3 separate regions of the Homo sapiens genome follow, and regions 1 and 2 are each linked to region 3. Evidence: fine-mapped QTL for protein levels in blood plasma. Region 3 holds a variant in brackets. A gene starts in each other region. All regions are shown on their forward strands. Region 1 holds the start of FCRL5 (Fc receptor like 5). Region 2 holds the start of CD5L (CD5 molecule like). Region 3 holds the start of TNFSF13 (TNF superfamily member 13).

The links. A credible set is the group of variants that fine-mapping cannot tell apart. PIP is the posterior inclusion probability: the model's chance that the variant is causal. Protein levels are from antibody-based Olink assays in UK Biobank. Linkage for the fine-mapping came from a reference panel and not from the study's own genotypes, which makes the PIPs less certain.
Region 1: it holds the start of FCRL5, and the variant in region 3 is the best candidate, but not a certain one, in a credible set for the plasma level of the FCRL5 protein (UK Biobank, PIP 0.54).
Region 2: it holds the start of CD5L, and the variant in region 3 is the best candidate, but not a certain one, in a credible set for the plasma level of the CD5L protein (UK Biobank, PIP 0.81).

Annotation. Positions count from the first base shown.
Region 1 is chr1:157,547,959-157,556,138 of GRCh38, forward strand. It overlaps FCRL5 (Fc receptor like 5), which reads right to left and starts at 4,557. Exons shown (of 17, transcript NM_031281.3): 1 at 4,374-4,557; 2 at 1,602-1,622. The coding sequence starts at 4,404.
Region 2 is chr1:157,834,353-157,842,499 of GRCh38, forward strand. It overlaps CD5L (CD5 molecule like), which reads right to left and starts at 7,456. Exons shown (of 6, transcript NM_005894.3): 1 at 7,322-7,456; 2 at 5,032-5,058; 3 at 1,483-1,803; 4 at 55-396. The coding sequence starts at 7,349.
Region 3 is chr17:7,555,127-7,563,282 of GRCh38, forward strand. TNFSF12-TNFSF13 (TNFSF12-TNFSF13 readthrough) reads left to right here. Exons shown (of 11, transcript NM_172089.4): 6 at 1,652-1,776; 7 at 4,498-4,576; 8 at 4,720-4,767; 9 at 4,923-5,041; 10 at 5,224-5,362; 11 at 5,598-6,475. The coding sequence ends at 5,707. It overlaps TNFSF12 (TNF superfamily member 12), which reads left to right. Exons shown (of 7, transcript NM_003809.3): 6 at 1,652-1,776; 7 at 1,973-2,755. The coding sequence ends at 2,224. TNFSF13 (TNF superfamily member 13) reads left to right here and starts at 3,624. Exons shown (of 6, transcript NM_003808.4): 1 at 3,624-4,171; 2 at 4,498-4,576; 3 at 4,720-4,767; 4 at 4,923-5,041; 5 at 5,224-5,362; 6 at 5,598-6,475. The coding sequence starts at 3,914. The coding sequence ends at 5,707. SENP3 (SUMO specific peptidase 3) reads left to right here and starts at 6,793. Exons shown (of 11, transcript NM_015670.6): 1 at 6,793-7,137; 2 at 7,940-8,156. The coding sequence starts at 7,951. It also overlaps SENP3-EIF4A1. RefSeq lists enhancers at 1-265, 2,374-3,167, 2,753-2,812, 3,623-3,672, 6,047-6,296 and 1 more and a silencer at 6,857-6,936. The variant G/A (reference allele first, on the strand shown) is at 3,807.

The sequences.
Region 1 (8,180 bases), not on the chromosome of region 3:
ATGTCCTGGAGGATTTTACTCCAAAGTGTAGAGAATGCAGCATTCCTGCTGGCATCAGCACAGTGGGATATTTTCAGGGTATTTTTCTGGCTCGCTGATTGAGAGGATCCTATCCTGAGTCAATATACTTGCCATGGAGTTGAAGATGTCCTGCCTGGCTAAATGGGGTCTGTTGGCAATAATAGTAAATGCAGGGCTTAGCAAAGGCTGGGAGCTGCTTGGGCATTCACCCCTTCCCCCAGGGAGGGTCAGAGGGTGACCATGAAGCTATCCTGGCCCTTGGACGATGCCAAAAAACCAGGCATCACTTTGAAATCCCTGCTGACCTCAGCAAGAAAACAGGAGATATTGTTTTAGGTCTAACATTTAAGTCTTTAAGAAAACCTAGGCAATACCATTCAGGACATAGGCATGGGCAAGGACTTCATGTCTAAAACACCAAAAGCAATGGCAACAAAAGCCAAAATTGACAAATGGGATCTAATTAAACTAAAGAACTTCTGCACAGCAAAAGAAACTACCATCAGAGTGAACAGGCAACCTACAGAATGGGAGAAAAGTTTTGCAATCTACTCATTTGACAAAGGGCTAATATCCAGAATCTACAATGAACTCAAACAAATTTACAAGAAAAATTCAAACAACCCCATCAAAAAGTGGGTGAAGGATATGAACAGACACTTCTCAAAAGAAGACATTTATGCAGCCAAAAGACACATGAGAAAATGCTCATCATCACTGGCCATCAGAGAAATGCAAATCAAAACCACAATGAGATACCATATCACACCAGTTAGAATGGCAATTATTAAAAAGTCAGGAAACAACAGGTGCTGGAGAGGATGTGGAGAAATAGGAACACTTTTACACTGTTGGTGGGAGTGTAAACTAGTTCAACCATTGTGGAAGTCAGTGTGGCGATTCCTCAGGGATCTAGAAGCAGAAATACCATTTGACCCAGCCATCCCATTACCAGGTATATAACCAATGGACTACAAATCATGCTGCTATAAAGGCACATGCACACGTATGTTTACTGCGGCACTATTCACAGTAGCAAAGACTTGGAACCAACCCAAATGTCCAACAATGATAGACTGGATCAAGGAAATGTGGCACATATACACCATGGAATACTATGCAGCCATAAAAAATGATGAGTTCATGTCCTTTGTAGGGACATGGATGAAGCTGGAAACTGTCATTCTCAGCAAACTATTGCAAGGACAAAAAACCAAACACCGCATGTTCTCACTCATAGGTGGGAATTGAACAATGAGAACACTTGGACACAGGAAGGGGAACATCACACTCCAGGGCCTGTTGTGGGGTGGGGGGAGGGGGGAGGGATAGCATTAGGAGATATACCTAATGTTAAATGACGAGTTAGTGGGTGCAGCGCACCAACATGGCACATGTATACATATATAACAAACCTGCACGTTGTGCACATGTACCCTAAAACTTAAAGTATAATAAAAAAAAGGAAAGAAAACAGGAGATATTGGAGATCTCAGGCAGCCATCACAAATGTTTTCTATTTATTAGGAAGAGACACTCTTAACCAGAGACGCTGAAGAGCCAAAGACAGGAGAACTCACCAAACTGTCCACTGACAGGAGCTGCAAAAAAATAAGAGCCAGAGATGAGCACAGAACCATGATTATTTTGTTTTAAGAAGATAATTCCCTTTTTTACCCATGCATGTATTACTTGTCCCTTTAAAAAATTCATTTAAAAACTCTAATAATTATTCATCAAATGTATATATATACACATAAATATACATATATATACATATATATATGGCATGGTATTTGGACTTCTACAATGAATTTTAAAAATGGTATCTGCCATCAAGAAGTTGACTAGTGGAAAAACAGAAACACGATTTAAAATAATATAACACAGGGTGTAAGTGCAATAACAGAAATACACATGGGGTATGTTGGGGGCAGAAGGGCCACTAGCCCAGTGTGTAGGATATATGTGTGTGTGTAGAGTGTGTGTTTGTGTGTACATGTGTTGAACAGGATGGGTGGATCCTTGAAGGTACCTGAAGGAGATGATACTTCACAAAACTGTGAGTGAGAACATGAGTCTGCAGGTGGATGTTAGCATTTGTGTGTGGTAAGAGGCGATTTCTACCTTTCAAGGTAGAAAGGGCACAGAAGTGGAGAAATGACATTGGTGCTCAGGAACTGGGAGTGTTGGGGGAAATAAGACCAGAGAAGCATGCAGGGCCTGAGTAAGTGGTTCTAATTTTATTATAAAAGTGATAAGGAGTCATGGAATGGTTTCAAGGAGGAGATTGACAAGGTTAGAATTTCAGACTTTGATGGAGCACTCTGTCAGTGGACAGAATTTAATGGGACAATATGAAGCAGGGAGACTGATTAGAAGGCAGGGCAAGGAAATGGACATGAATTAAGCCTCCCTTGGGCACCAGACTCCAGGCTATACTCTTTTCATGAGATCATTGAATCCAAGGGCTCATTATCATCATGCCTAATTTTTAAACAATCAACTGATGCTCAGATTATTTAGACCTGATGCTCAGCCCAAGAGATGGTAATGTGTAATTTTTGTCAGAGTATTTATCCAAATTATCTTCATTATCTGCTTGTTTATTTTCCCTTCTCTATAATGCAAGCTCTATGAGACCTAGGACTTTCCTTATGTTCACCATATATCCTCCAGGACCTATAACGGTGAATGGCATATAAAAGATATTCCTTTAATGTTCACTAAATATATTTGTGTTGTATAATGAATTAATTAAAGAACTAGGTTAATAATATAGGAATAGAAGGATAGAGATTTGAGAAATGGGTAATGAAGAGAGAGAGGACACAAAACTGGCAGGTTTATCAATTGAGTAGGTATTCTGCATATGGGTTGATTTATTTATTCAACAGATTTTTGGAATGCCAATCATACTCCAGAGCAAGGCAATAGAAATCCAGGAGTGTGTGAGAGACAAATCATCCCTGTCCACATGAGGCTATTGGAGACTTATCCAAACTTAAGTGTTTTACTGAGAACAACAAATTATTCACCATTCACCTGAATATTTTGGCTTCCTTCATCTTTGCATTGTTTTAAATGAAGCTAATATTTTTGTGAGTGGTTTCTATATGGTCTGCATTTACGTAGGTTATTTCATATAACCATGTCAATAATCCTGTGAGGTAAGCACTAGGATTAACTGCATTTTGTAGACCAGGAATCTGGTAGCCAGTAGGTGGCAAGATGAAGTTTGAACCTAGATCCTGTTTGACCCCAGAGCCCATGTTATAAACTTTGCCCTCTCATGCTCAGGACCTGGCCATTACCCACATTGTGTGGGGCCACACTGAGATGTATTCCTACTTCAGGAATTATAGTCCATGCACCTTCCAACTGTGAGGTCCTCTTTTCTTATATCACGCCTGCTCCATTTCTGCTCCTCTAGCTCCTACTCACCTCTAAGTTTCATGAAGTCTTTACTAGCTATTTTGAATACAGTTTATTATCTGCCTACAGCATTCATTGGTAACTTTGCCTGGACAATTATTTAACTGGGAGCTTGTTGCATAGCTGCTTGAAAGTACATTGGCCTTGCTGGGAGCCCTTCTATGTCATGACTTTCCAGAACATAGACGTAGTGTCTCCTATGGACTCTAATTGCTCAGCACCTGTGCATAGATATTACTAAACACATTTGCTGAACAAATAAATAAACATATTTAATTATAATATTTAACCTTTAGTAAAAATCAACCAGTTCGCACATATGAGTTGATAGAGACTTACGTACACCCACAGGGACAAAGAGAAAGTCATATGCTTTAGATTTATCCTTGCTTTGTCCACCTACGCCTCTGCGACCTCCTCCACCCCATGTTCTTAATCAGCCAATTGCTGCAGTGGTTTGCAATTATGTACAAGAGAAAGACCTGTCTTTCCCGTTAGAAACCTTGCCTCTTATGCTGGGGACCAGGATCTGGCCTTGTCATACAAGGAATAAATACATCTCCTCTGCAGAGAGGAGAGTGGGCTCTTCTATGAGTAAGACAATATGAACAAACAAACATGAAACATTCTCTGGACTTTAAGAAGTACTTTTTAAAGAAAAAAATAAATGAAATTTTAATTGTTGTGGTTATTGTGGTTTCCTACTCTGTAAGATTGAAAATTCCTTCCAGCTGTGGCCATTTTCTTCAGCCTCAAGAGAAAGCCCTGAGCTACAGAGTAAAGTTCAAAAATACAGTCTCCTAATGTAGGAGAGAGTCTCTCAGCAGGGGCTGAGCCCCAAGAAAGGACCAGGCCTGCGGTGGAGAGAGAAGCTGTCCCGATCCCACCCAGGGCCCATGGTGAGCCCTTTTACTCACCCAGGACCAGTAATATCACCCACAGCAGCATGAAGACCTGGACCACCAAGGGCTGAGATCAAAAGAGAAGTTTCCTCAATTCCAAAACAGGTTTGGACTTGATCTTACAGTCAGGACACTGCACACCAGCTCCAAGGAGCACATCTGAGAAGCTGTGCTCTCAAAAAGAGCAGAATGCATTAGTGAATTGAAAAAAGGAAGTGGGAGTACCCGTCTTCAGCTGCTAATCACAGTTTCCTACCCGATGATCAAAGAAAAAAAAAAGTTAAGGTTTTAAAAAATCAAATACCCTTGACCCTACATTTTTGCTATTGGGAAATTACCCTGAAGGAAGTATCTGAAGAGAGTACTATAAGAACGTTTATTGTAGCATTCATTATTGCCTAAACACTGGAAACAAAACAAAAAACCATGATATGGGGACTGTTTAAGAATATTCTGATTCATCCGTATGGTGACAAGCAATCATTAAAGAATAAGGTAAATCTGAACATGCCAAGAAGGGAAGACCACCTTGTTTGATGTGAAGAGAATAAAAGTGAGATATAGATTGGTTTTGTAGTATTATCCCATTGGGTAAATATAAAAAATAGGATATATGTGTACATCAACTCTTTTAAGTATACTTTCTTCTTTTCCTGGAAAGTACACACAAAAATATTGATTATGTTTGAGGAGCAATAGGTGGGAAGAACACAATTTATTTTATGTATTTCTGTACCGTTTGATTTTTTAAAAAATTACCAGGTGAATGTATAGCTCTTATGATTTTCTAAAAGTCAAGTTTCCATCCTGGTATACTGGTCAACAGAGGTTCCTAAGACATTAGCTGCCACGAGGAGTGCCAGTTTCTTTCTTTCAAATATTTTCTCACCCTTTCTCTCTGGGCCCATACCTTGGTCTTCCTAAGGGGGCATTTAATTTTATATCTACAAATGCACATCACCTTAGGTATATTATGTCACATCTGACCCACTGCACCCTGAGGCAAGAAAACCATACAGGGGTTACAGGGGTGAATAGAGATTAAGAGGAGAACTTCAAAGGGAACACAGAATCTTTACCTACTTTTGGTGCTAAAACAAATAGTGCTGCTATGAACATTCTTGTATACATTTATTGGGGCATATGCGCACATAATTCTGTTGGGTATATATCTGGGAGTGGAAGTCCTGGCTCATAAGGTATGCATATATTCAGTTTAGGAAGTATTACCAAATTATTTTCCAAAGTGGTTGTGCCAATTCCCACCACACCCACCAACCAATGTATGAGAGTTATCATTGTTCTAAAATTCTTGCTGATATTGGTATTGTCATCTAGTAAAATCTGGCCGTTCTGCTAGAATTATCTCAATGTGGTTTTAATTTGTATGTCTCTGGTGAATTTGAGAATGAGCATTTTTTCATAGTCTAATTGGTGATGTAGATATCCTTTTTATGTGCAATCTCTGTTCAAATATTTCCTCATTTTTCTCTTAACTTTCAGTCTTTCTTTTCCTGTTTTGTAGTTATTTTAAACCCTGAATATAAACCTTTTGTTGGATATATGTATTGCAAATGTCTTCCTTCAATCTGTGGCTTGCTTCTTTGCTCATTGATAGTGCCTTTTGATGAACAACCATTCTAACTTTGACATAGTCCAGTTTATCAGTCTTCTCCTTTGTGGTTAGAGATTTTTGCATCCCTTCTAAGAAAGTTAGTCTACTCCAAGATCATAAAGATACTCTCCCAGGTTATCTTCTAGAAACTTTATTTTTTACCATTTATTTTATATTTATAAGAGCATTGCAATTGATTTTTGTGTACAGTTTGAGTGTTTATATTCACTTTTAACTTAAATACAGATAATTTATCCTGCCCTATTTATTGAAAGTTGATTTTTTCCACAGTACAGTGCAATTTCACCTTTGTTATAAAACAAAAAGCCATGTAGGTCTATTTTTGGAAACTCCTTTCTTGTCCATTAGTCTATTTTGTCTATCCTCATGCCAATACCACACTCTTCTAATTATTGTGGCTTTATAATAACTCTTATTAACTGATAGTTTAAGTCATAAAATGCTGTTCTTCTTCAAAATTGTTATGGCTATTTTTGGCTTTTTGAATTTTTCTATACATTTAAAAATCACCTTGTCAATTCCTGTCCCCTCTCTCCCCAAAAGCCTAGTAGATTTTTAATAACTGGGATTGCATTGGATTTATAAGTTAATTTGTATAAATTAGAAAAGATTTAGTCTCCCAATCCATAAACATACAATATCCCCTCATTTATTTAGGTTAACTTGACATTCTTTCAGTAATTTTCTATAGCTTTGCCTCTGGAAAGTATATCTTTTGGTAGGTTTATCCTTAGGTTATTGATATGTTTTTTATGATATTGTAAGTGACATCATTAGATTTTTTTCTAAATGTATATTGGTATATAGAAATATAATACTTTTTTGTTTTACTGACCATTATTTTTATTTTTTTGAGACAGAGTTTTGCTCTTGTCCCCCAGGCTGGAGTGCACTGGTGCGATCTTGGCTCATTGCAACCTCCACCTCCCAGGTTCAAGCGATTCTCCTGCCTTAGCGTCCCAAGTAGCTGGGATTATAGGTGTCTGCCACCATGCCCAGCTAATTTTTGTATTTTTAGTAGAGATGAGGTTTCACCATGTTGGCCAGGCTGGTCTCAAACTCCTGACCTCAAGTTATCTGCCCGCCTTGGCCTCCAAAAGTGCTAGGATTACAAGCGTGAGCCACCATGCCCGGCCTTACTGACCTTTTAATATCTACTAAAATTGCGGAATTTACTTATTAATTTTAATAGTTTATCTTTAGGTTATTTTAGATTTCATGCAAACACAATCATATAATGATAGTTTTATTCATTATTTTTAATACTTAAACTTCCTTTTCTCTCACTTATTGCACTGACTAGGAACTCAAACATGATACTAAAGAGAAGTGGTAATATCAGGTGTCCTGTCTTAGTCTCACAGAAAAAGCTCTTAATATTTCAATATTAAATATAATATTTTCTGTAATTTTTTTTGGTGAATACTATGTATCAGATTAAATACCTTTCCTTATATTTCTAATTTGCTAAGAAATTTTCCTTTTTTCCTAAATAATGGATGCTGTTTCAGTAAATACCTTTATTGCCTCTATTAATATGATCATATGATTATTTACTTTTATTGTTAATATGATGAATTACATGGATGATTATAAATGTAAAATCAACTGTGCATTCCAACTTGGCCATGATGTGTTATCTTTTTTATATATTCTTGAATTTGACTTATAAATTTGCTGTGCTTTTTAGCATTTGTGTTCATGAGGAAGATGGACCAATTTTCTTTCTTGATGAATTTTAGTAACAAAATTATATTGGTCTCATAAGCAAGCTCCTTCTTTTTCTATTTTCGTGAAGAGTTTGTGTACGACTGATGTTATTTCTTCCTTAAATGTTTGGAAGATTTTACTGGTAAAGGTACTTACTTAGGCTTATGAAAAAATGCTCACCATCACTGGCCATCAGAGAAATGCAAATCAAAACCACAATGAGATATCATCTCACACCAGTTAGAATGGCAATCATTAAAAAGTCAGGAAACAACACGTGCTGGAGAGGATGTGGAGAAATAGGAACACTTTTACACTGTTGGTGGGAGTGTAAACTAGTTCAACCATTGTGGAAGTCAGTGTGGCGATTCCTCAGGAATCTGGAACTAGAAATACCATTTGACCCAGCCATCCCATTACTGGGTATATACCCAAAGGACTATAAATCATGCTGCTATAAAGGCACATGCACACGT
Region 2 (8,147 bases), not on the chromosome of region 3:
TTCCACATAATTAAATCCATGAATAAACCTAGTCTTTGGACGCACAGGCATTACCTTCACATTCGACCCACGTGTCTTCATCATGGTTGCAGGTGTTCTTCCCCCAAGGCCCAGAAGGGCAATCCTGAAGGGTTGCTTCTCGTCCTGAGCATGACATCTGGCTCAGCCAGATGGGTTTTCGGCCATAGGCATGCTTGTTGCAGCGTTTTTGAGTCAGTACAGCCCTCCCACATCCCAGCTGCCGGCACACCACCTTTGCGGCCCGGAGGCTCCAGCCTGTCTGGCACACGGTATACCACTGGTTCTGGTGCTTCACTTCCACGCGTCCCTTGCAATGCCCAGGGCCGTCAGCCAGCCTGACACCCTCTGGGACTGGGGAGAAAGAGCTCTCTGGGTCTGAGGGGAAAGAAAGAGAGCGTGTCTGTTCTCTGCCAGAACATGGTCTTCTCAGTAAAGGCGGCCCAATGGACACATCTCACAGTTCTTGGTGTTCAGTACAAGGCATGCTAAAGTGCTTAACACTGCCTCATAGATGCCTGCTGAAAGAATGAATGAGGGAATCAATGAAGAAAATGTAACTTCCAAATTCAAAGCTGAATCATTATCATTTCTGTAGCATTTTAATTTTTCAAATTGTTTTCATGTTCAACTTGTCATTTGATCCTCACAAGAGATCTTGTATAGACTTTTAAAAATAAATACAATAACATACAAGATATATCCAACACCAAATGCTTTTTGGTTCATTGTTGGCGTTATGAACTAAATATCTCAGATTAGTGCTCCCAACCCTCAATCTTTCTAAAAAATAGGACTGAGTCTTCAATGTCAAGGCAAAAAGTGACTGTTTCCCTAGAAACAAATTCTGTGGGCAGACAAAGAGGAGCCATGGACTAGCTCCTCAATCACATCGCTGTCTAATGAACAAAAGAGAAGAGACTACTCATACATATAAAGCAAGTATGTGGGGGGAAGTAAAGGAGCACAGATCCGTTTGTCTATGTATCTTTCTATCATCTATCCACCTGTCTATTAGATTGTGTTAGTTTCCTATGAGTATCTCCTTTCTACCTGATTAGAAGATAAACTCCTGGAAAACTGAAACTATTTTTTAAAAAGCATACATTATACTTTGTGAGCTCATTTCTTCCCCCATAACTCCATGCCCAGCTCCAGATACAGTATACTCTATTCAACAAATGTTTAGTGGTGTGCATGTTGGCATGTGTGTAAATAAGAGAAACAAGTTCTCATATAGATTGAAACTAAGATGAAAGCATTTGCTCAACCAAGTAGGAATTGCAGTTCTAGGTGAGGATATTGTTTATCTCCAGCACTGACAGTTGGGAAAGTATGAGATGTGGGGGGTGAGGGGCCAATTAGCCATTGTGTGAACGTCTATGGTAGGGAATGAAGACCAACAAGAGTGGCCGTGAGGGGTATGGCAGCTGGCAAGTGGTCCGGGACCCCTGCCATACTCACTCTCACACGATGCCCCAGCATCTTCATCATGTGAACAATCATAAACTTCTTCTTGCTCACACTGAGCCAATGTATCTTCTGTTCCTGTGCAACTGACTGATTGGATGAGGACCTTTTGCTCTTTTTCTGCTGGTGGCTCATACAAAATACCACTAGGGGTTCCGCTGGCAGCTCCACAGCCCAGCTCCCGGCACAACACAGCCACGTCCTTAATGTCCCAGCCGTCATCACACACGGTGCCCCACTGGCCTTTCTGTTCCACCTCCACCCGCCCTTCACAGCGGTGGAGGCCCCCCACCAGCCGCACTCCAGATGGAGACGCTGCAAAGAGACGGGTTGTTAGCTAGAGGCCTGAGAGGAGCTCAGAGGGTCCTTAGGCATGTACTCAGTCAATCTGGGACTCTTCCACCATTCAAATGGTGCAGAGTGTTGGGGAACTAGAAATAAGGGATCAGAAGAAAAGGGAAGGAAGAGGAGCTTCAGAACTCCGTGTCTGAGTTCTGGTTCTGCTACAGCCTTAATGGTACCCTGTCAAGAAACTCTACTTCAAGATACCTGGACATGACTGCTGGCATTTTCAGATTGAAGATTAAGGAAAAGAGGTTGGTTGAAGATCCAGCAGAGTTTTAGATTCTCTGGCGGTCAGAATCAGAAGGCCCTAAAGAGATCATAAAGTCCACCCCATTATTTCACAGATGAGGAAAATCATCCTCATGAAAGTTATGGTCCTATGGCTACATTGTCCAAAAGTGGAAGCTCCAGGCCAGAACAGAGGTGTAAAGAGAATATCTGTTGCGTTTTTCCTCTTCATGACTCTGTCTCTCTCCATGGAAGTCAGATTGAGGCAGAGTGTGTACAATTCGGGCTGAACAGCCTAACTATCTCTCACTCTCAGTGGCCAATCCATGCCCATACTTGCTGCTTCCTATGAAATTGTTCCTTGTTCAAGCGCCCATCTCAGGAGAAATACAGAGCATAGGGAAAGGGAAGAGTCAGAGTCTCAGAGCCCCAAGAGTTTGGTCTAATTCCAGGGACTAGAAGCATAAGAGAGGATTCATGGAGTCTCCAGATAAGTTGTGAGAAATCTAGGACTTGATTCAGTTTCATGACTAGAACTCTGGAAGTACAAAAGCTAACAGAGGTGGGGTGTGATGGCTCATGCCTGTAATCTTAGCACTTTGGGAGGCTGAGGCAAGTGAATTTCTTGAGGTCAAGAGTTTAAGACCAGCCTGGACCACATGGTGAAAACCTGTCTCTACTAAAGAAAATAAATAAATGAATACAAATATTAGCCAGAAATCGCTCAAACTCAGGATTTGGAGGTTGTAGTGAGCCGAGATCATGCCACTGCACTCCAGCCTGGGCAACAGAGCAAGACTCCATCTCAAAAAAAGAGAAAAAAAGAAAAGACTAACAGAAATTTTCTTCCTTCCACCAAGACATGCAAGGAGAGTGGAGATGGCTGTGTAGGGAGACCAGGGAAGAGCCTATTAGACAGCAAACATTTGTTAGGTGCGTACTACATTTCTGTTTTGTTTGTTTGTTAGTTAGTGAACTCAGAGAACAGTGATGAGTTCTGCCCTCAAGAAGCTTATATTAAGCTTGGCAATCCCACCAAGCCTCCTGCAGCCTCAGAGCAATATAGCAGAGGCTGAATTTGCCATGCTTACATGGAGAGAGACGGTTAGCTGAGAGAGTTCTTGTGCACCAGGAGAGGCCACGTTTGGACTGGAAGTCTATGGCCTATTGGAAGATGAACAGCTTAATAGGGGCCAACATGGGCCACATGGGATGACCCAGGTTGCATGCATGGATAGAACGTGACTGCTGAGGACCAGATTTCCCACAGACTAACTTGTCACAACTGCACACAAAGTCCCCAGAGTTTAGAATCAGTCCAAGAGAAGTAGTTCAGTGAGAAAACTCTAATCTAGCTATTTTTTTTTTTTTTTTTTTTTTGAGACAGAGTCTCACTCTGTCGCCCAGGCTGGAGTGCAGTGGCACGATTTCGGCTCACTGCAAGCTTCGCCTCCTGGGTTCACACCATTCTCCTGCCTCAGCCTCCCAAGTAGCTGGGATTACAGGCGCCAGCCACCACACCTGGCTAATTTTTTTGTATTTTTAGTAGAGACGGGATTTCACTGTGTTAGCCAGGATGGTCTCAATCTCCTGACCTCGTGACCTGCCCGCCTTCGCCTCCCAAAGTGCTGGGATTACAGGTGTGAGCCACCACGCCTGGCCTAATCTGGCTAATTTTAAACTGCATCAGGAAGCTTATGTTTATTTCATGCATTTGTTTTTTAGTTTCTTTCCTTTGCTTAAATTTTTTTGGGAAAAAATATAAAAATGGAGGCTAGAGATAGCAATTAAAAGTTAACCATAAAAAATAGGGCTTTTATATAAACCGTAAAAAACTAAGAAAAGTTTTCATTTTCACACAACTGAGTTTAAGGCTTATAGATCTGGGTAAAAATATAATGTAAGAGCAGTTATCCAGAAACGTTTTTATCTTCATGAGTAGCATGAACCGTAAATAATTTGGGGGTCATTGTATCTGACATTAGAGTTTGGATTGGCATTATTGCATACTCCAAGAAATACTAGCTATCAGGATTAACAGGATATTTTCTTTCCTTGCTGATTGCAAAATTCTCAATTTTTAATCAATTTTCATTTTCTATGGGGTAGAAGACTAAAATAGCCATGGGAAAGAAGAAATAAATAAAAAATAAAAAACAAAAAATAAGTAAACAAGAAATTCAGGGAAAGAAGAAATAAATAAAAAAAAATTACTTTTTTAAAAACAAGAAATTCAGCTTGAGGAAACAGAAGGGCTAATCTGAATGTCAAGATGAGAACCCAGGAAGGTTGCATCTATCAGGGTATAGGATTCTCCACACCAATAGCAATGTTTCTGGCTGCCCCTCTCTGGTAAAGTCTCTATGATCAAGCAGAAGGGGAGACTGGAAGGATAATATACAAGAAACTGATAATCCACAACCCATAGCCTCCCTCTTCTATAAACTCATTCTCTCTGTGCACCCTTTCCTTGGGTTTATCATTTGTGCATTACCCAAAGACTCCCCGAGCAGGAAATCCAGCCTATGCTCTGCTGGTCAAGCTATGTGCTGCAAGCAACAATGCATTTCTAATTCAAACAAAGACACCATTAAGCCTGGCAGGGGGACCTGGATATGCTGGAAACCAACAGGAAGAAACCAAAAGGAAGTTCATTTTTCAGGTATGCCCATAAGGCAGTGAAGTGCATTCTAGACCTGAAATGAACCCAGCTCTTACTTGGATGCTGGCCAAGTGGCCACAGAAACCAAGTGGGGAGAGGTACCCCCTGCCAGGATAAACCACCCAAACCCTTCTAAATTCTGGAGGTGGAAATCTGCCCACACAAGACTGAGTGGGTGAGGTAGGAAGCCAGAAAGGAAGTCTGCTGGGCCTGTTTTGAACAAGTCTTTCTCTGTGGCTCAAGAAGCTTCAAAATTTTCCCTCTCCTAAGCTTGAGGCCTCCCTCTCAGAAACCCCCAAAAATCTTACCTAGGAATCCAGGTCTGGTGCAAATGGCTGGGGAAGAAAGAAGGAAATGAGTGAGGTCAATTTCCAAGGCTTTATTCAAAGAACACAACTCTAGAAGGCCTTCACAGAACTGTGTGAGACAAGAGTGGTAGATGCAGAGCCTCCAATGTCAGTCCTGTTGGGACCTTCTTCTTCTGGGATGACCATCCTCCAAGGACACAGGGACACTGGCTAGGAATCACAGAGACCAATTCCACCACAGCTAACTGGTTCAGCCTGCTTTCTTCACACGTGATGGTGGATAGATTGGTTTTCTATTCTAGTCAATTAGATTGATTGGTTGTTACTGCCTGAAGAAAAGTGTGGTGATACAGCCTCTTGGCTCAACAGGAAAGAGTGCTGGAGGCCACTGGGAAGATGCACTGGCCGGTGGAGGTAAAGATGCCATGGTGGGCAGAGCAGAAATTAGGGCAAAGGGGCAGGATATGCCTGTGTTCATCGGCACAGCATTTAGACCAGGTAAGCAAACTCTTACTGTAAGAGGCCAGACAGTAATATTTTCAGTTTTGTGGGCCATACAGTGTCTGTTGCAACCACTCAGCTCTGCCATTGTAGCCTGAGAACAGCCACATATATGTATGCAAGTGAGGACGGCTATGTTCCATTAAACCTTTATTAGACACTGAAATTTAAATTTTTTGTCATTTTCATGTGTCATAAAATAGTATTTCTCTTTTGCTTTTTTCCTACCATTTAAAAATACAAACCTCATTATCAGCTTGCAGGCTGTTTTAGCTGATTTAGATGAATAGCTCAGGAAGTAGCTCTATATGTAGTTCCAAACCTCCAGATTCCAGCACCAGCCTGTCTTTAAAACATGGGGGTTTCTTCCTGCAGGATCTCTGTATATTTGGACTCCTTTCTCCATAAGGTCCCTCCTAATGCTGTAGAGAGTCCTGGGCCCTGTAACCTCCAGGAGTCCCTGAGGCCTATGCATTTTCAACTGCAAAACACCCACCACCCCCATCTTATAGGATTTTTCAGAAGGTGCAAATATCTTTGGACCTCCAGCCTACAGTTTTTCAGGCAGATTCAAGTAGTTCAGTGGTTTATCCTGGAATATTTTCTTTTCTTGGTTTCCAAATAACCTCTCATTACCCTCATTCCCTTAATCTTCAGAATGTGGCCACTCTCAGGCTCAATGAGGCCTTTTCTGCAACTATCCAAAACTCAAGGTTATATTATACATATGGGAATCATTGCATAACCCCAACCCAACATGTGTACATGTGAAGGAAAGTGAGCATGGCAAGCCTGATATGCAGGTGCAAACGTGATATAGCCAGTAAGTGACTTGGAAGCTCTGCAGTAGGGTGGGTAACTGCAGAAGGCACAGGCCAGAAAGGCTTCATGAAGCAGGTGGAAGTGCACATGAGCCTGGAAGACCCAGTAGTATATCCATGAGGGGCAGGACTAGCCGTTGAGTGATGTGGGGGATGCATGGATGTTTAAGATGTGGTCAGTACCTTACATTGAACACAAAAGTGTCCAGTTGAGAGGATTGTGTGGGCTTTGGTGATGTACTAGATCATCAAGACATAAAAGTGGATGTGATTGATTAGCATAGGGATTTACCAGGCATTGTTAGATGCTTTATATTAGTTATCTTATAAAAAAAAATACTCCTAAAAACCTCTGAGGAACATAATATTATCCTCACTTCATAGATGAGAGAGCAAAATTTCAGAGAGGTATGGTAACCTACGAATTCACACCGCTAAGAAATCAAAACGGCAGGATTGAAATCCAGGTCTCCTTGGCTCCACAATCACCAGATTAACTAGGTTAATCTCTAGATTACTCTAAGCAATGAGAAACTGAAGAAAACTAGAAAAACATTATATGAAACACTTTTCAGAGGAAACCAGACAATATGATCAATGAAAGGTGATTGTCTTGCAGTTCTACTTCCTTTCCTGGCTCTACTTGCTGCTGCCCGGTGCCCATTCATTTGTCTTCTTACTAATAGTACATTTAGGAACACTTATGTAAAAAGAGAAATGGGATAAACTATCATGACTCTGTCATTACAAATATAAGAAAATAGAAAAAAATCTGTTAAAGTGAATTACAAATGTGTATGGATTAAGCGGCTTTTTAAGGATTAGAATAGTTACCAAATGTAAAAAGGAGGAAGAAGCTCATCCTTGAAAAACATCTAAATCTGTTCCAGGTTGGCGGGGAGAAAGTTCTCCTAATCAAAGTGCCAGAAAACTCTGAAGCCTAAACCAACAGGTGCAGAGATACTCACCAAGGATCAAGGAGAATAGCAGAGCCATGACCAAGGCAGGTGAAGGTGATGAGCTGAAATTTAAGGCTAGAAGGAGGTCCCCAAGCAGCAATATTTAGTTTTAGCTGCAAGTATGTTAAGAGGAGGGACAAAGACAGGTCCTGAGTGCAGGCAAAGCATTATCAGATGATCAGAAACCAATAGACTCGGGGGGCAGAGCTGACAGAGCTGGACTTGCTGAAATCAGCATGTTCCAGAGGAAAGGAGGTGGCCAGAACTGGCGGAAAAATGCTGAAAACAAAATAGAAACAGGCTATCATGACTTGGTTCTGCTGTAAGTCCAGCTCCGTCTGTCTCTCCTACAGCCCCTTTGCTATGTAAACAGAGGAAACACCTCCCACAAGGAAAGGCAGGTGCCAAAAATATGGCCATCTCTCAGTAGAAGACAAGGCAGTACTTAGTCGCCAAGGATGGTTTGCAAGGGAAATAAGCCAATTTTGATTCCTTTACCCCAGAGGGAAGTGCCTAGAAAATTTGGAAGCCAGAGGCCATGGGATAAATGCAGAGTTGCCCTTGGAGGCATATCCCATAAAACATAATCCAGGGTCATGGTGCCAATCTCCACATACAGGCCTGGCTTTATTGTCTTCAAACCTGCTTTCTCACTGCTAAGCAGAGGGTCCAATATACAGATTTGTTATTTTTCTATGCTTGTGCTGGTGTATGCCCATCTTTGGAAGCTGGATGGAAACAGATCCCTGAGGTGAGGGGCATCATAATCATTGAACTCAAGTTGTCTGTAGGTCTAAGACATGATGGACAGAGATTAAGCAGTAAGACCCTCTCA
Region 3 (8,156 bases):
ACAAGAGTGAGACTCCATCTCAAAAAAAAATTTGTAATTACAGTGGAATATGACAAGAACAATAATAAAAGTGGCCAAGATACCTGGCAACACAGGGGAAGACAGACATGGCTGTGGAGTCAGGGATTCTCTCCCTGCATCGCAAGGTGCCGCTGGGCCTTGAAGCAGGAGCGTAAGACAAGACAGGCAAGGGGTCAAGAATGGTGGGTGCAAGCAGAAGCAGCCCCTGGGGCAAAAGCCCCGGGTTTGCCCAGAGCATGATGAGGCTGGGGGACTCTAAGTTCAGCGTGGCAGAAGCAGAAAGTGCTAGAGGAGCGAGATGGGGATGAGGCTGGAGACAGAAGCCAGGCCACACGGTGGCATGTGGGAACTATTCTGAGGTGAGCCATCGGAAGGAGGAAGGCGAGGCGAGGCGGGCTTACGTCTGCATCTTAGAGACTCATTCTGTGGCTTTGTGTAGGGAATAAACTGGAGGAAGCCAGAATGGAAACAGGGAATGCTGTGAAAACCAGACAGAGGCACCAGATGGGGGAGAGAGGGGAGAGAGCTATTTAGGAGGCAGGATAGATAGGAACTGGTGATCGATTAATGATGTAGGTAAAGGAGAGGGAGGCTTGAATATCCCCCTGGTGGCAAAACCAGAAGCCAAATGTGGAAAACAGACAGTAAAGCAAGAGTGGGATGAGGGGGGTCAGCTCAGTGTTGGTTGAGATGAGTTTGAGGGGCTATTGCTGTTCAGATGGTGCAGTTGGCAGGGTAAGGAAGGGAAGGAAACTTCAGGGCTGGAGACTCTGCAGAGCACAGGTTGTGGGAACCCATTGGTGGAAATAAAAATGCCCAGTGAGCGTTTTTTTTGTTTTTTTTTTTTTTTGGAGACAGAGTCTAGCTCTGTTGCCCAGGCTGGAGTGCAGTGGCATGATCTTGGTTCACTGCAACCTCCCCATCCCAGGTTCAAGTAATTCTCCTGCCTCAGCCTCCCATGTAGCTAGGATTACAGGTGCCTGCCACCATGCCCTGCTAGTTTTTGTATTTTTAGTAGAGACGGGGTTTCACCTTGTTGGCCAGGCTGGTCTCGAACTCCCGACCTCAGGTGATCCGCCCACCTTGGCCTCTCAAAATGCCGGGATGACAGGCGTGAGCCACTGCACCTGGCTGAGCATGATGTTTTCAAGGCACATCTGTGCCATAGTGTGTATCAGTACTTCACTCTTTTTATGGCCAAATAATATTCCATTATATGGATAGACATTTTGTTGATGGACAATTGGGTTTCATTTTATTATTTTTAGTTGTACTAATTCAGATAATGTATGTTTACATCCTCCATATAAAAGAAGCAAATAATATAGATATCCATGAAGTAAAACATTAAATCCCCTCACGCTTCTCCTTCAGTTCTACTCTTCTCCCCAGAAGTGACTGCAGGTGACAATCTGCCCTGAATGTCTCTGGCCATATACATTAGATTTTTTCACATAACTTCCTAGTCAACTATGGGCATCATAGGGGATGGGTCCTCCCTTGCCCGGGGTGATCTATGTGTCTTCTGGGTAAAGTGGGCGCCGAATGTTCATATGCTCAATGGATCCCTGGGGAGTGTGGGGGAGTCCTGTAGAGAGACGTTTCCTTATCTCTGAGCATCCGTGTTCAGGTGTGGACGGGACAGTGAGTGGCTGGGAGGAAGCCAGAATCAACAGCTCCAGCCCTCTGCGCTACAACCGCCAGATCGGGGAGTTTATAGTCACCCGGGCTGGGCTCTACTACCTGTACTGTCAGGTAAGCCCCATCTGGCTGCATGGGTAACGCAGTAAGAGAGTGGCGAAGGGTTTGCCAGGAGAGTGGGGGACAAGCTACAGGGCTGGGAGGGTGAGTTGGGGTTTGGGTGGGATGGGATGCCTGCGTCGCTGAGGAAATTGGAAATTGAGGCGAGGGCAGGCAGAGGCCTGGACTCGGCCTGTTGTCCCCACCCCAGGTGCACTTTGATGAGGGGAAGGCTGTCTACCTGAAGCTGGACTTGCTGGTGGATGGTGTGCTGGCCCTGCGCTGCCTGGAGGAATTCTCAGCCACTGCGGCGAGTTCCCTCGGGCCCCAGCTCCGCCTCTGCCAGGTGTCTGGGCTGTTGGCCCTGCGGCCAGGGTCCTCCCTGCGGATCCGCACCCTCCCCTGGGCCCATCTCAAGGCTGCCCCCTTCCTCACCTACTTCGGACTCTTCCAGGTTCACTGAGGGGCCCTGGTCTCCCCGCAGTCGTCCCAGGCTGCCGGCTCCCCTCGACAGCTCTCTGGGCACCCGGTCCCCTCTGCCCCACCCTCAGCCGCTCTTTGCTCCAGACCTGCCCCTCCCTCTAGAGGCTGCCTGGGCCTGTTCACGTGTTTTCCATCCCACATAAATACAGTATTCCCACTCTTATCTTACAACTCCCCCACCGCCCACTCTCCACCTCACTAGCTCCCCAATCCCTGACCCTTTGAGGCCCCCAGTGATCTCGACTCCCCCCTGGCCACAGACCCCCAGGGCATTGTGTTCACTGTACTCTGTGGGCAAGGATGGGTCCAGAAGACCCCACTTCAGGCACTAAGAGGGGCTGGACCTGGCGGCAGGAAGCCAAAGAGACTGGGCCTAGGCCAGGAGTTCCCAAATGTGAGGGGCGAGAAACAAGACAAGCTCCTCCCTTGAGAATTCCCTGTGGATTTTTAAAACAGATATTATTTTTATTATTATTGTGACAAAATGTTGATAAATGGATATTAAATAGAATAAGTCATAGTCTCTCTCTTTATTGGGGCTCAGGGGACACTCTCAGGGTAGCTGGGGGCCACGTGAAGGGGGGCGTTGCGGAGCGGCACAGCTGGAACTCCGGGATGATGTTCAGGCTTGGGGGCGGGGACCTCCATGCCTCCAGCCCCCAGGTGGGAGCAGAGGTAGGAAGGCACACTGCCCAGGAAAAAAATCAATCCTCCGCCCAAGGTACAGCAGAAGCGGCCTCCTTGGCCTAGGAGGCAGACTTCCTCCTGCGGGGAAATCCCTTCCTGGCTGGGAGGAGCAGGGGCCCTTCCTCTTGGTGGCCTCGGACATTCAGCAGGTGCTGGCACAGGCCCTGGCTGGGAGGTGGGGCGGGCAGGAGCCAGCCTGGAGGAGGGGCTGAGAGTCAGCAGGCACACGGGAACCCGGAACCCTGTGTGCTGGGGAGGAATCCCGCAGTGGCCGGGGGGCTTGAGGCCGCTGCTTTGTCTCTTCGTCCAGAGCCTTATGTAAGAGCTTTTCTCGGGAAACAGGAAGTCCTGCTTGCCAATTTCAGCACAGGGAGTAGTGCAGGCCTTATTCCAACACACCCGGCCCAGCCTTAACCCCAGAACTCAGCCAGTTTCTTGCTTCCGTGCCCCTGGTTCTCCTCCCCATCGAGCCCACCCCTCCTTTCCCACCTTCAGTCACCCCTAGTGAACTGCCCCAGCGATCTCTGCTGTGCTTGACCCCGAGGGTCTTCCACCCTCGCCCTGACCCTGGACACTGCCCAGCTTGGCCCCCCATCCTGCTCCTGGCACAATGCCCTCTAGCCAGCCAACCTTCCCTCCCCCAACCCTGGGGCCGCCCCAGGGTTCCTGCGCACTGCCTGTTCCTCCTGGGTGTCACTGGCAGCCCTGTCCTTCCTAGAGGGACTGGAACCTAATTCTCCTGAGGCTGAGGGAGGGTGGAGGGTCTCAAGGCAACGCTGGCCCCACGACGGAGTGCCAGGAGCACTAACAGTACCCTTAGCTTGCTTTCCTCCTCCCTCCTTTTTATTTTCAAGTTCCTTTTTATTTCTCCTTGC[G/A]TAACAACCTTCTTCCCTTCTGCACCACTGCCCGTACCCTTACCCGCCCCGCCACCTCCTTGCTACCCCACTCTTGAAACCACAGCTGTTGGCAGGGTCCCCAGCTCATGCCAGCCTCATCTCCTTTCTTGCTAGCCCCCAAAGGGCCTCCAGGCAACATGGGGGGCCCAGTCAGAGAGCCGGCACTCTCAGTTGCCCTCTGGTTGAGTTGGGGGGCAGCTCTGGGGGCCGTGGCTTGTGCCATGGCTCTGCTGACCCAACAAACAGAGCTGCAGAGCCTCAGGAGAGAGGTGAGCCGGCTGCAGGGGACAGGAGGCCCCTCCCAGAATGGGGAAGGGTATCCCTGGCAGAGTCTCCCGGAGCAGGTGAGTGAGGGGAGGAGGGTGTCTGGGAGAGGATGGTTAGCATGGGGGGTCTCTGGGCCTCCTGGTCTGCAAAGTTTCAAGGGGGTGCAAGAGAGGGTCTCCGGTTTGGAAGTCAGGGGCGCGGCCATTCCAGGAAAGGAAACTGTTAAAGGTTAATGCTTCTCATACCTAACAAATCCTGGAGGGCAGCCAGCACCAACACTCAGGGTGCTGGGAAAAGGTGCGTGAGAGATCTGAGGCATCTCGGGGGCAGGGGAGGGCTGGGAAGGCAGGCTGGCTGGGACCCTCGCATCTTAACCTAACCTTGACCCTCTTTCCATGAGCAGAGTTCCGATGCCCTGGAAGCCTGGGAGAATGGGGAGAGATCCCGGAAAAGGAGAGCAGTGCTCACCCAAAAACAGAAGAGTGAGGCTTCCAGGGTGCAGCAGGGGTGGGAGGTGATCAAGCAGCGTGGGGATTGTAAGCCCGAGTCAGGGTGAGGGTGGAGGCTGCCAACAGCACAACGGGGGAAAGTGGATGCGGCTGAGATTCCCTCCTTCTCTCCTCAGAGCAGCACTCTGTCCTGCACCTGGTTCCCATTAACGCCACCTCCAAGGGTGAGCACTATTTTAAATAATGGCTTTGGGGAGGGGCAATAACCAGGAACTCGGGCTGGCACTTGGGCTCAAGGGGTCCTTATAGGTGAAAGGGAAAGAACCAAAAAGCACCTGAGAGTGCCAAGAAGTCCTGACCGACACACTCTCACCTCCAGATGACTCCGATGTGACAGAGGTGATGTGGCAACCAGCTCTTAGGCGTGGGAGAGGCCTACAGGCCCAAGGATATGGTGTCCGAATCCAGGATGCTGGAGTTTATCTGCTGTATAGCCAGGTAACCCCAGCCACACTCTGAGCTTCACAGAGGGCCTCTTTGGCCCCCTACTGAGGGTTCCTGACCCCTCTATTCATACCAAACCCAGCAGACCCTTCTTTCTTCCCTCGTTAGCGCTCCTGAGGCCTCCCAGAACTGAGCCAGGCCATCCTGTTTTCTTCAACATCTCCCTTCCCTGCCAGGTCCTGTTTCAAGACGTGACTTTCACCATGGGTCAGGTGGTGTCTCGAGAAGGCCAAGGAAGGCAGGAGACTCTATTCCGATGTATAAGAAGTATGCCCTCCCACCCGGACCGGGCCTACAACAGCTGCTATAGCGCAGGTGAGAGCCGTGTGGGCAGCCGAAAGCAGGACGTCTCTGACCGGGGGTAGCAGTGCAGGGAGCTACCGCTAGGAGGGAGGTTGGAAACCTAAACAGAGGCGGGTCTGAGGAGTGAAGTGCAGAATGCCGGGTCCTTACAGGAGGCAGAGGAACGGTGGAGCTGGAGAAGGCAGGGGGAAACAGGGCATCTGGATGGCTGTGCTTCACTGCGAATCTACTTTCTCTCTTTTCTCAGGTGTCTTCCATTTACACCAAGGGGATATTCTGAGTGTCATAATTCCCCGGGCAAGGGCGAAACTTAACCTCTCTCCACATGGAACCTTCCTGGGGTTTGTGAAACTGTGATTGTGTTATAAAAAGTGGCTCCCAGCTTGGAAGACCAGGGTGGGTACATACTGGAGACAGCCAAGAGCTGAGTATATAAAGGAGAGGGAATGTGCAGGAACAGAGGCGTCTTCCTGGGTTTGGCTCCCCGTTCCTCACTTTTCCCTTTTCATTCCCACCCCCTAGACTTTGATTTTACGGATATCTTGCTTCTGTTCCCCATGGAGCTCCGAATTCTTGCGTGTGTGTAGATGAGGGGCGGGGGACGGGCGCCAGGCATTGTCCAGACCTGGTCGGGGCCCACTGGAAGCATCCAGAACAGCACCACCATCTAGCGGCCGCTCGAGGGAAGCACCCGCCGGTTGGCCGAAGTCCACGAAGCCGCCCTCTGCTAGGGAAAACCCCTGGTTCTCCATGCCACACCTCTCTCCAGGTGCCCTCTGCCTCTTCACCCCACAAGAAGCCTTATCCTACGTCCTTCTCTCCATCTATCGGACCCCAGTTTCCATCACTATCTCCAGAGATGTAGCTATTATGCGCCCGTCTACAGGGGGTGCCCGACGATGACGGTGCCTTCGCAGTCAAATTACTCTTCGGGTCCCAAGGTTTGGCTTTCACGCGCTCCATTGCCCCGGCGTGGCAGGCCATTCCAAGCCCTTCCGGGCTGGAACTGGTGTCGGAGGAGCCTCGGGTGTATCGTACGCCCTGGTGTTGGTGTTGCCTCACTCCTCTGAGCTCTTCTTTCTGATCAAGCCCTGCTTAAAGTTAAATAAAATAGAATGAATGATACCCCGGCTCCATTTCCCCCACTGCCTCGCCTCAGCCCGGTCCTCGTACGGGGATCTCCCGCCCTCCTGGCTCTCCTGTGGCGCGCCCCCCGCCGGATCAAGGTACTGGGGATGCCGCTAGGGTCAGGCCCGCGAGCGCGGAGAAGACAGAGCGCGGCGCAAAAGGGAAAGTGGCGGGGCCGCCACGCGCGGCCGGGCGGCGGATGTGCGCAGGCGCAGCCTCGCGTAGCGCTCTGGGCTGGCCAGTCCCGTGGCGCCGGCGTCCTCGGGTAGACGGGACCGCGCGCTTGGTGGCCGCGCCGGCGCTCTTCGCCGGGTGTGACGTACTAATCGTGCGCCACCGCTGCCGGTGGGCCCGGGGCTCGCGGGAGGGGAAGGAGGAGGGGGGGAGGAGTGGCGGCGGCGGCGGTGGCGCTGGTGGCGGCGGTGGCGGAGGTGGAGGTGGAGGTGGAAGCTGAAGCTGAAGCAGAGCCAGAGGCGGCGCGGCGGGGTGCTCGGCGGCGCGGCACGCGGCCCAGAAGCGTTGGAATCCTGAATTGAGACGGCTGCGCCTAAAGACAGCAGGAGTGGCGGGGCCGCCGCCGTCGCCGGAGAGATGAGCCGGGAAGCTTGAGGCCGGAGACGCCCGCCTTCGGGCCCGTCCGCCCGGCTTCCCCGCTCCCGGTGAGGACGCCCCCTCCCCTCCCCCCAGCCCTGCCTTGGCCTCTCCCATTCCTGGGCCTCGCTCCCACCGAACCGGGGCCCAGAGGCCCGCATAGGGGCTTCTTAAGGCCCGTGTGCGCCGAGCCATCCAAGCTCGTGGGACCGGACTGGTGCCGGGTTGCATTCTGGTCCCCGAGGATGAAGTAGGAGGGGGCTGGGCCGGCCTGGCTTGTGCGCTCCGTTCTGTCCCAGCGTCTTGATTCGGTTCTCTTTAAGTTTCCTTCAAAGTTCTTCCCCGTTTATCAGCCTCTGCCCCCTGAACCATATCCCTGGCATCTGCACTTGAGATGACCGCAGCCTTCCCATGCCCCCCGTTCATCCAGGGTGTTAGAGAACTGTCTCCCATTCCAGTCCAGTTTCCACGTGCAAGTTGCATTCTCCTCAAGTACCACGGTTATCATGTCCCTGAGGAAAGAAACTGCCCTTGTTGGGCCCTCAAAGGACAGCCCTGGTGGTATTAAAATAAAGACGTAGAACCTGGCAGTGCTATTGGGTTTGGCCTGGTGATCTTAGAAATAAGATCTCTGAGGCCTGCTGCTTAGCCATTTTCCCTTGTCTCTGGACTGGGGAGAGATGATGGCACAGACCCTGAAGGGCCCCTTGTGGACCGCGTTAACCGGGAAGATCTTAAGTTAGGAGTTTTGCGTTTTTTCCTCTTTTCTTTATTTGCATCTGAATCCAGAGGAGGCATGGCCAGGAAGAGAGGCAGGATCTGCGGTGGGGTGATGCTTAGATTTTGATACCCTGATCTTTTGTTTTTCAGGGTACTGGAAGATGAAAGAGACTATACAAGGGACCGGGTCCTGGGGGCCTGAGCCTCCTGGACCCGGCATACCCCCAGCTTACTCAAGTCCCAGGCGGGAGCGTCTTCGTTGGCCCCCACCTCCCAAACCCCGACTCAAGTCAGGTGGAGGGTTTGGGCCAGATCCTGGGTCAGGGACCACAGTGCCAGCCAGACGCCTCCCTGTCCCCCGACCCTC